3 linked regions of the Homo sapiens genome follow. The protein of the gene in region 1 interacts with the protein of each later gene in a pairwise test. Each region holds a gene or a part of one and is shown in the gene's direction. Other genes may lie near its edges. The genes, in order: SLC9A1, WNK1 and MAP4K4.

Region 1 (3,729 bases):
CATGACTGCAGAGACCCCACTCTAGGCAGTCAGAAGTTTGTCCCTGCAGGCCTGGTATCTCTAGTGCTAATGAGGTCAGCTTGGCCTGGCCTGCTTTGTCACCACCCAAGTGCTGTGCCCGGGACCCTGGGCAGCTGGAGAGCAGAGATGGTGTCATGGCAACAATATCAGTCTAGAAGTCAGGAAAACCTGGCTTCTCTTCCTACCTCCCTCTGTCCTTGGACCAGTCACGCCTCCCTACCCATCAGTTGATCTTTGTGGTCCCTTCCAGGTGTGATATTTCTGTCATTCCACTGACTCTGGAAACTCTGGCAAGTCACTCAGCCTTGGACCTCAGTTTTCCCATTGTAAAATGATGAGGCTGGATGTGGTCTCCTTTCCAAAAGTCTGTTTCTGCCTTGGAAAGGCATTTTTCTGCCTCTGAAAACAGGAGTTCTAGCATCTGGCCATGAGTGGAGAGAAAGGTGGTCTAAAGATCTGAAGAGTCCCTGTTCAGGCCTCAAAAATGAAAGCCCATTTTTCCCAGCTTCACCTTTGCAGTGTGGAATTCAGCCACCACTCTGCCACTTAGCAGCATCTCTGAGCCTCAGTTTCCTCATGTATAAAAGGGGAACTAAGCTGGGCGCAGTGGCTCACGCCTGTAATCCCAGCACTTTGGGAGGCTGAGGCAGGGTGGATCGCCTGAAGTCAGGAGTTTTGATACCAGCCTGGCCAACATGGTGAAACCCCGTCTCTACTAAAAATACAAAAAATTAGCTGGGCATGGTGGCGGCTGCCTGTAATCCCAGCTACTCTGGAGGCCAAGGCAGGAGGATCGCTTGAACCCAGGAGGCGGAGGTTGCAGTGAGCCAAGATTGCGCCATTGCACTCCAGCCTGGGCAACAAGAGTGAAATTCCGTCTCTAAATAAATAAATAAAAAAAAATAAAATGGGAACTAATAGTATCCAGTTATAGTGCTATTAATGTGATTATTACATAAATAAATGCACATAAAAGTTTGTATACACAGGAAGTGTTCAATGAGTGACAGCTGCCCCTGTTAATATTTTAACCACCTACAGCAAATGCATCCCTACCTCAGCCTCCTACAACCTTCCTCTGAGCTGAAGGATTACAAATCTCTCAAACCTAGGCTGCCACCAATGTCCTTCCTTAGGGTATCAGGGTTTCCATGTGTCCTATACTGTTCACTTGAGCTGGTCATGGCGGGAGGGAAGATGACACCAGCTGCCTTGTAGGGATAAGGGTGGGGGGCTGAGGCCATGCTCCCTCTGCACTCTCAGATACCCAAGAGCCTGGGAGCTGATTTTGGGGTCTTGCCTATTCTCTCAACACCCCTGCGTGGGTAGGAGTTCCGTTGGAGCCCTCATTCTGTCATCTATGGCAGCTGCTTCCCTTGCAGGTTACCCCTCCTATAAGAATAGAAAGTGCTTTGCAGTTCTCCTTCCTACCCTAACCATGGAGCAGAGCCTCGGGTAGACTCTTGCAGAGACTGGGGTGGGAGGAGCAGGGTGGGAGCTGAAGTTCTAGAATAGTTGCTTCTGGGTTCTAGTCTACCTCTGACTCAGTGGGTGACATTAGGTAAGTCACCTTCCCTCTCTGGACCTTTTTTCTCTCCCCAGCAGTCAGGAATTCTTGCTTGTCCTTGGTGGGGAGGGGCCAGTGGTGTGAAGAGGATTTAGGCTATTGGGAAAACTGTGGGAATGACTCCAAGCCTTAGGAGTTAGGTGCATTCCCCACCCCACATTGTGCTGTGGACCCCGCATGAACTCTGCTTTGTTCCATGTTCACCTGACTCCCAGGCTAGTACTTATTCCAGAGGAGAGCCTCACTGTAACTCAGCTCACCACTGGCATCTCCTGCAATTGTTTACCCATGTTCCTGACCCAGAATGCCTGGCAGAGGCCCGGGAGCCCATAAAGCAGGTATTCATCTTGTCTCCTGACCAGGGACACAAAAGGCTTCTTTTGTCCCTTTATATCTTATAGCTTTTTTTGGTTTTGGTCTTTGCAAGGCGAATCCTGCCATCTCCTCTGTAGATTAAGTCTGTGAATAGGGGAGATGGGGTCACTGCCCACTTCACATGCATGGATATCAGACCCAGCAACTGGTTTCCTATAAAAATGACACTAGAAGGTGCCTCTCTCACTTCTCAAAAGAAGAGAAGAACAAATAGCCTAAAGGTCACCTTGAAACTGTCTCAAGAAGCCCAGATAGGACTCTAAAAAGGAAGCGATGACCTTTTTCTCTTTGGGAAAATAGCAGACTGACTGCAGAACAGTGGGAGGGAGGTCAGCTGGGGACTGGGAGGAAGGCTTCAGGTAGGACATGTGTCTCTAGGAGTGCCAAGGCACTTAGAGGGCTTAGTTGGTCAGATTGCCCAGACTTCATTCAGCTGAGCACCCTCGAAGTTTGCCTTTCCTCTCCTTCCAAGCCAGCCCCATGGCGTCCAGCCCTGGTACAAAGGAAAGACGTAGTCAGAAGCCCTGGGTTCTGCTCCTGATGCTGCCTCTCAGTACCTGTGTGACCATGAACCTTGAGGTTCATGCACCTCATTCTCTGAACCTGACTTGCCTCATCCTTAAGACCAACGTAGAGGCTGAACGTGGGAATGCCTGGTAGAGTGCCCAGCTCACTGTAGTAACTTTCAGGGCCGTGCAGATTCTTCCCCTTTTGGGAGGTCTTCCCAGCCCACAGCAGTCACTTTCTCTTTCTCTCCCAAACCCTTTTCCCTTATTGTTTATCCATAACAGTGGCATTAGGCCTTGCCTGCCCTGTGACATCTCCTGTGTTGAACGGGTGTGTGTGTTTTAATAATAGTTGCCACTTAGTATCTACAGAGTAGTGTCAGGCACTTTATAAAAGCAATCTTATTTAATCCCTACTCAAATCACATGAGATAAAAGCTGTCTCTGTTTTGCAGATGAGGAAATGGCTCAGAGAGGTTATCTTCAGTGATGTCAAATTGCTATTTATTGTCTGTTCGAGTCTTGGCATAGCCTGCTAGAGGGGTGCAGCTGCATCTCCTGCCTCTGGCATTCCCGCAGCAGATGCACATGGCCCTGCACTGAGAAGCGCCCAGCTCACTGCACCTGCACTCAGGAATTGTAGGACTCCCTCTAGGAGTTGGGCACATGTCGTTGGTGGGAGCCCTGTCCCTGCCTTGAGAAAGCTGTAGGTGTTCTGTGTCCAGCTGTGCACCTGTCCTTTGTTTTTGTGAGTCTTCTTGGATGCACCTGAATCCTGCATTCAGGAGGCCTATCCCTTGTTCTCTGCTAGCAACCCTGCCTGCTATCTCTCTTCCGGTGCCCTCTCAGCCATCAGACCAGAGCTTGCTTCTTCCCTGCTTGGGCAGGGAAGTGCCAGGTAAAGGGTGGTCTCCTTTAGCCACAAGGGGTGGCTGACCTTATGACCTCCCGCCTCTGAGCAGAAAGGTGACAGGCTGCTTTTGGTTACCCTCAGGGCCCAGCAGAGTCCCCTGAGAGGCAGCCTCTGTTGGGAGCAGGTGGCACAACTTTGTTTAGCTCTACAAGGCAGGAGGAGTTTAATAGTACTTCTCATTAGCACTGAAATTTGTTTCCAAAGCACTTGTGTGTACAATATTTAATTTAGATCTTCTCAGTGGTCCTGTGGGTTAGAATAGCATGTGGTATTGATGTGTTCATCATTTTACATCTAAGGAAATTGAGCCTTCGGTTGTGACCTGCCTGAGGTCACTTAGCATGCCT
Region 2 (3,729 bases), on another chromosome or scaffold:
TGAAGAGGGGATTGCTGGAGTTGCCACCAGCACAGGTGTGGTAACTTCAGGTGGTCTCCCCATACCACCTGTGTCTGAATCACCAGTACTTTCCAGCGTAGTTTCAAGTATCACAATACCTGCAGTTGTCTCAATATCTACTACATCCCCGTCACTTCAAGTCCCCACATCCACATCTGAGATCGTTGTTTCTAGTACAGCACTGTATCCTTCAGTAACAGTTTCAGCAACTTCAGCCTCTGCAGGGGGCAGTACTGCTACCCCAGGTCCTAAGCCTCCAGCTGTAGTATCTCAGCAGGCAGCAGGCAGCACTACTGTGGGAGCCACATTAACATCAGTTTCTACCACCACTTCATTCCCAAGCACAGCTTCACAGCTGTGCATTCAGCTTAGCAGCAGTACTTCTACTCCTACTTTAGCTGAAACCGTGGTAGTTAGCGCACACTCACTAGATAAGACATCTCATAGCAGTACAACTGGATTGGCTTTCTCCCTCTCTGCACCATCTTCCTCTTCCTCTCCTGGAGCAGGAGTGTCTAGTTATATTTCTCAGCCTGGTGGGCTGCATCCTTTGGTCATTCCATCAGTGATAGCTTCTACTCCTATTCTTCCCCAAGCAGCAGGACCTACTTCTACACCTTTATTACCCCAAGTACCTAGTATCCCACCCTTGGTACAGCCTGTTGCCAATGTGCCTGCTGTACAGCAGACACTAATTCATAGTCAGCCTCAACCAGCTTTGCTTCCCAACCAGCCCCATACTCATTGTCCTGAAGTAGATTCTGATACACAACCCAAAGCTCCTGGAATTGATGACATAAAGACTCTAGAAGAAAAGCTGCGGTCTCTGTTCAGTGAACACAGCTCATCTGGAGCTCAGCATGCCTCTGTCTCACTGGAGACCTCACTAGTCATAGAGAGCACTGTCACACCAGGCATCCCAACTACTGCTGTTGCACCAAGCAAACTCCTGACTTCTACCACAAGTACTTGCTTACCACCAACCAATTTACCACTAGGAACAGTTGCTTTGCCAGTTACACCAGTGGTCACACCTGGGCAAGTTTCTACCCCAGTCAGCACTACTACATCAGGAGTGAAACCTGGAACTGCTCCCTCCAAGCCACCTCTAACTAAGGCTCCGGTAAAATTATTGTTATAAAATAATTAGATAAATATGATCAGTTTTTTTTCTCCCTAATGAGTACATTTTTCACTTCAGCCTTGTAAGTTAGAAACATATTTATAAAGGTACCTGGCTTATAGTATTTATTAAATTGACAGCAGTTTGAGGGTATATCTACAATGAACATGAGATTTTTTTTTCAAGTGTGGCAGGATTTTAGGGTTAATTATGCTGCACAGTTTTCCAAGATGGTATAATTATCGGGTAAAATACAGGTATTTCTTCTGAATTGGTACAAACTGAAGAAGTCTGTATCCCAAAAGGGAGCTAAATGCATCTGTCAGCAAAATGTACGTAAATAATAGCAGTTCATAGTCTTTGTTTCAGTGAGAATGAAGCAAATTTTTGGTTTTGTTGTAGATTCCACAGTTGTACAGTTTGGGGGTTATAAAAAATTGGAAGTTAGTAAGGAAATTGATACAGAGGAGAAATAAATAATCTAATCCTAGGACTGAAGTAACTAAAATTTATTATCTAATTATGCTGTGGTGGATTTCCTCTTGTTCTGCCACCTTCTCCAAATAACAAGGCTGTGTTACGTCTACTGTATTGTATGCTTCAGCCTCTTTCTGCATTGCCATTGATGTGAGGTTCTTTTTATAGTAGGATAATGCAGAATCTTCACTCAGATAAAATAGAAATTCTTGATAATAGTATTAGATTTCTGATGCCTTTTGTTATCAGACCTGCCCATTGGTTATTTCTTAACCAGTTACTGTTTTCTTTTCTCAGAAAATCTTGTTTTACATGGCGAAAGTCTGATACATACTGTACCAAATAAGTAGCTCAAGAATATCTGGACACTGCCACTTATGTACATATAGCCTTTGTTCTGTTCTCCCTAGGGGACAACTTTTTACTGTATTTTACTATTCATTTTATAGGTATATCGTAGTAACCCCTATAATAACAACATTAGTTGTCACACCGTTTTTTTAAGACAGATACCAGAGAGTAACCTCAGTGATAAACATGTCTTAACTATATATATTTTATTCTTATGTTTGTGCATTCAAATTAGTTGATTTGCTCTTCAGTACGCAGTCTTTATATTTAGCGTCTCACGGACTTGATTTTCCCTTTGTTGTCTGTAGGTGCTGCCAGTGGGTACTGAACTTCCAGCAGGTACTCTACCCAGCGAGCAGCTGCCACCTTTTCCAGGACCTTCTCTAACCCAGGTGCCTCAAGACTTGACAAATTTCTTCCTGTGCCCTACTTTCTTTGACAAAGCTTGCTGAAGTTCTCCACTACGTGGTCTTGGCTTTTGCCTATTTGTCTTTGACTTAGTAACACCTTTCTTTTAAAATGTTATAACCAATGACCCAGTTCCTACTTAAGTAAGAAGCTTCATAGCTCTTTTGTTTGTAATGTTGCTTCCGGTTATCCAAAAACACTTGATACTAATTTTTTTTTTATATCTTATGAAGGAAGAAAACAGCAAAGCAAACATTTTGTCAGACCCATATAGCTCCCTTTATCACTCACACTTCTGTAGAATAGCGAAATTGCGTATATAATCAAAATTAACTTTGAGAGTGCCCTAGAAAGGAGAAGCACAATATGGCAACTGAGAAACTTTTTCCGCGAGTCCAGAGCAACCAGTCTCTTCTTGAATGTTGATCATTTCTTTCACTAGCCACCTAATGAAGGAATTAGCTTACTTATAGGTAGGTATAGGGGTGATGTTTCATGAAAACTATGTGTGCTGTCTCTTTTAAAATAAAAGCCACCGAGCTCAGTGAGATGCTAACATTATGAGATCACTCATGGAGGAACTGAGACCAGCCTCATGAACTTGAGATTCCCATCTCACACAGTTCTGCTCACTTGAGTGCAGTGGTGGACAGAATTACCTGTAATATTTATTATTTCTCTTTCCCACCGCAGTCCACCGCCAACACATTTGTTGAATTTCCATAAGAAAAGTACTAATTGTGAATCTGTTGTGACCAGGAAAAATCTTCTGACATGAGACAAGCCAGTAAACTTTTAAACTAAATTAGGAATTTATTTTTGAATCATATATAAGAAATAAGAAAAACATGGTAAATTGCTTACTTGAGAAGCTGAGTTGGAATTTATCCCTATTTCTTTGGTCCCAATGTACAGGGGAACACTATTTGAGGAACTTGCCACAATGAAGTAAAAACCCCAACAGAGAAAGCACTCCATCAGCCACCACATTTGGGGGAAAGTGCATTGTGAAAGTCCGTAAATCAGGAGTTAGAAAATTAGTTTTAAACTTATTTTCTCATTTAAAAACATGGATTCAGATTTCTAAGGGAGTATAAAGTGTGACAAAAAATAGCAAGTGAGACATGTGGAGGGGTAAGGGTAAATAGCTAGTGCCTAGATAGAGGGAAAGGCCTAAGCAAAGACTGTGCAAGAATAGATTGATAGAAGCCAAGACAGATGTAGGATTAGACTGTGGAAGGGTAGAAGGAAGCTGTGTGCTTGCGGTGGATGGAATGGTTAACAGGATGGAATACCCAGACCTCCTTGCCACCATCTGTAGGGAAGAAGTATACATGTAAGAAAGAGGA
Region 3 (3,500 bases), on another chromosome or scaffold:
TATCCATTATAAATATGTCTAACATCCCTGATAGCTTTACCCTAAGCTTTCTTGTTTAATGGTTAATTTTAGTGTCACAAATAAAGTTTGTGTTAATATTATTGGCTCTCTGTGTCTGGGAAATTTGATGGCTGTGCATCCCCTAGAGTTGCTGCTACCCAGTAGCCACTAGCCACATTTGGCCATTTAAATTAAAATTAACTTCAGTGCAACAAAATTAAAAACTCAGTTTTTCATTCATGCTAGCTATATTTCAGGTGCTCATTAGCAACACGTGACTAGTGACTACGGAGCAGTGCAGAGACAGAACATTTTTATTATCCCAGAGAGTCCAGAGTCTAGCTTGTGCTTTACTGGCAGACAGCCTTGAGCTAGAAGAGTGAGTTGTCATCACGTGCCTGGCATGTCATCTTGCTCTGTTCTGTAGGGTTACATAGAACAGTCTGGATTTAGAAAGGCTGAGTGAGTCTGGTGATTCAGTAGCACCTTTTACACCTGTTGATGGGATGCAGGGTAGAGGGTGGTTAAGAGTATGTATGGGCCGTAGAGGCAGAGCAGCTCTTCCAGCTGGGGGCTTGCTGGCTGTGTGACTTTGGGCAAGTCACTTACCTTTTCTGAACCTGCTTTCGCATCTGTAAAGCAGGGATGAAATAATGACTTCCTTGGGTTGTTAGGAGAATTATATTAGGTAAAGTAAGTGGAATAGAAATATCAAATACTTAGCATAGTGCCAGGCACATAGTAGTAAGCATTTGCTCAGTAGCAGTTTCTGAAATACTTATATTAATAATAATGGTCCTGGTTATTCTTGTTGACGTCAGTTCCTCTTTTCCTGATGTGTGCTTCTTTTTTTCCTTTTTTAAATTCTTTGTCTGTCTTTGCTGTATTTCTATTTCCCTTTATTTCTTTCTCTTAATGTATTTTTCTTCTGACTTAAGGGTCCTGCATAACCCTGTTAATGATATCCACGAATAAAGAATTTTCTGTCCCCTAATTGCTGTGGTGCAGTGAGCAGTGGGGAATAATTGTTATCAAAATGAAACTAAACCCTATAAGGATTCACAGAGTCACAATACTTTTGACCAGCATTCATGAAGAAGCCCTTACTTATGGGTCCGAGGGGCAGTGTGGAAATAATTGGCCAGTAGATATGGGGCCCATGAACCTCACCTCATTAGTGTCCACCTGGCACTGACTGATCAGCACACTATAACATCATGAGAAAGATGGCGGGAAGATCCCTGGTAATTATACATTTTTACTTACGTAGCAACAAAGGAGAGAGCGGGAAGCTAGAAGGCAGCAGGAACGTGAACAGCGAAGGAGAGAACAAGAAGAAAAGAGGCGTCTAGAGGAGTTGGAGAGAAGGCGCAAAGAAGAAGAGGAGAGGAGACGGGCAGAAGAAGAAAAGAGGAGAGTTGAAAGAGAACAGGTTAGTTCACAGATAACATAGCAGGCATACACTTGTGAAGTTTGTTACTTTGCAGAGCTGGGGGATTTTTAGAAAGTATACACACATGTGATGCATACACACATGTACACACATACACATATACTTAGAACTTCAGATGTATGAACGTGGTGAAACACAGTTGGAATGACACCAATAAATTCAGTCTCTTGTCTTAAAAAGGGTTTATAAATCATTACACTTTAGGAACCTGTTGAAACCAGTTAAGTGGTCTCTAAATAGTATAATACCTGAAAGATGTCTGCATGTATCTTCTCAGGCTTGGCTTAAATGCTGTAGACCCCAAATATATGGGTGATAATTAACTTTTAAAAAAAAAATGAAATTAAAAACCAACAGTAAGAAATTTCTTAGGAGAAATATTTGAATATCCAGTGGCTAAGTGAATACTGTAATATATATCAGCATGTAATTCTGTATATACACAGCACATTAAAAAAACTAACATTGATGAGTTCAACCAAAAAAGATCAGGTTTTAATAATATTTGCAGCATTTTATTAATGTCAGGTATGATTTTATTTAGAATTATTTTTTTGTTTCCTGAACCACCTGTACAAATACAATTTGCCCTTAGCCCCTTTGCCTTTCTTGTCTTTGAATTGATCTCTTTGTTATGAGCTTGGAATAAAGAAAAAAATGATATGTGAGGACCAATTTAAATAGCACTTGGTATCTGTATTTTAAACTTATAAACCATGGTGTTAACTTTCAAATGTGACTGTTCAGCTGCCGTCCTTTATGCTTATCATGTGTCTTGGGCTTTCTAAGCTTGGGTCTGCATGCTCCTCGGTGTTTTCCCAGGAATTTCAGTGACGCTTTTTATGTTACCTAATTGACGTTGTCAACCATTTAACTGTGTAGCGCGTGTGCTTTAACATTCCACTTATGTTTATACCTGGGGTCTGCAAAGAGGAAAACATTCAAGCTTTTAAGAATTAAATCACCTAGAAATAATGATTACAGTTCGATCATGAGAGGAGGGTGTGATGGTAGCAATTCATCTTTAATGCTCTAGTGGCAGTCATTAAATTTTGTGAATAGCAAGTATTTGGCACCACTTTTAAAAAAAAAAATTCTAAAATCGGTTTTATTCTGTTTTTCCCTGTTCTATTGTGAAATAGTAATTCCCATGTTAACAGTGCTGTAGGACGCATTTCATTTCAGCATAAGTGTGTATGTTTGTGTAGATGCGTGTTGTGTATTGTTTGTTCATTGACTATGTGTTAGGACCTTTGTGGTTTGGAGAGGACATGATTTTTCCAGCTGTCCCTGTGTTGAGGGCAGAAAACAAATGAGTGTACTGACTTGATCTTTCGAGTTAAGATTTAATTCTGTTTTGTTCAAAAAAGAAAATGAGTTGAAAGTCAGGTTCCTTTGCTCCGTCACAGTTGGGTTAAGGCCACAAGCCTTGCTAGGGTAGGTATTGCTGTAGCATGTACCATGGAGGGTCAGACATAGACACAAGAGACGTAGATCCCAGGTCAGAACCAGATATGTTTGTCAGTAGCCTTCTGACTAAGTCCGCCCCACCCCTCTGCCCACACCCCCCCAGTTGGCTTTTTTGGCTCAGTTTTCTTTGTAAAGTAAGGTTTTCTAAGGATTTTTATATGCTGTAATTTCAATATTCTCCCAGAGATATTGGTTAACTAAAACTTCTGTTCAGCCCATATTGATGGCTATTTTTGTTTCAAGGTGTGCACCATGACACAAGGGGATGGTCAGCAGTAGACACTCTTAAAAGGGAATCTGAATTTCAGGATAAAATGTCTCCTCGTAGTCCTTCTTAGTCTATTCCTCTTCTAGAGCTTTTTTCCCTGTCCAAAAAAAGGAAGCCTCTTTGGCTTGTAAAATGTTTTATGCTTTTCAAGGTTATTTCATATCAATCTCATGTCTGAACCTTACAAAAATTCCTGAGGGTTGGGAGAGGAGATTTTGGATGCTCATTTCTCAAATGAGGAGACTGAGAAAAGGGGAGCTTTAGAGCATGCTAGGGATCATAGAGCCAGTCCTCAGTGGAACAGGGACT

What was found.
Region 2: the proteins of SLC9A1 (region 1) and WNK1 interact in a two-hybrid assay, tested with the Homo sapiens proteins (one large-scale study listed by BioGRID).
Region 3: the proteins of SLC9A1 (region 1) and MAP4K4 interact in a two-hybrid assay, tested with the Homo sapiens proteins (one large-scale study listed by BioGRID and IntAct).

What each region holds. Positions count from the first base shown.
Region 1 is NC_000001.11:27,148,551-27,152,279, reverse strand, and holds part of SLC9A1 (sodium/hydrogen exchanger 1), read left to right. Parts: intron 1-3,729. UniProt on the Homo sapiens protein: Electroneutral Na(+) /H(+) antiporter that extrudes Na(+) in exchange for external protons driven by the inward sodium ion chemical gradient, protecting cells from acidification that occurs from metabolism.
Region 2 is NC_000012.12:884,941-888,669, forward strand, and holds part of WNK1 (serine/threonine-protein kinase WNK1), read left to right. Parts: coding exon 1-1,144; intron 1,145-2,280; coding exon 2,281-2,364; intron 2,365-3,729. UniProt on the Homo sapiens protein: Serine/threonine-protein kinase component of the WNK1-SPAK/OSR1 kinase cascade, which acts as a key regulator of blood pressure and regulatory volume increase by promoting ion influx.
Region 3 is NC_000002.12:101,854,707-101,858,206, forward strand, and holds part of MAP4K4 (mitogen-activated protein kinase kinase kinase kinase 4), read left to right. Parts: intron 1-1,270; coding exon 1,271-1,432; intron 1,433-3,500.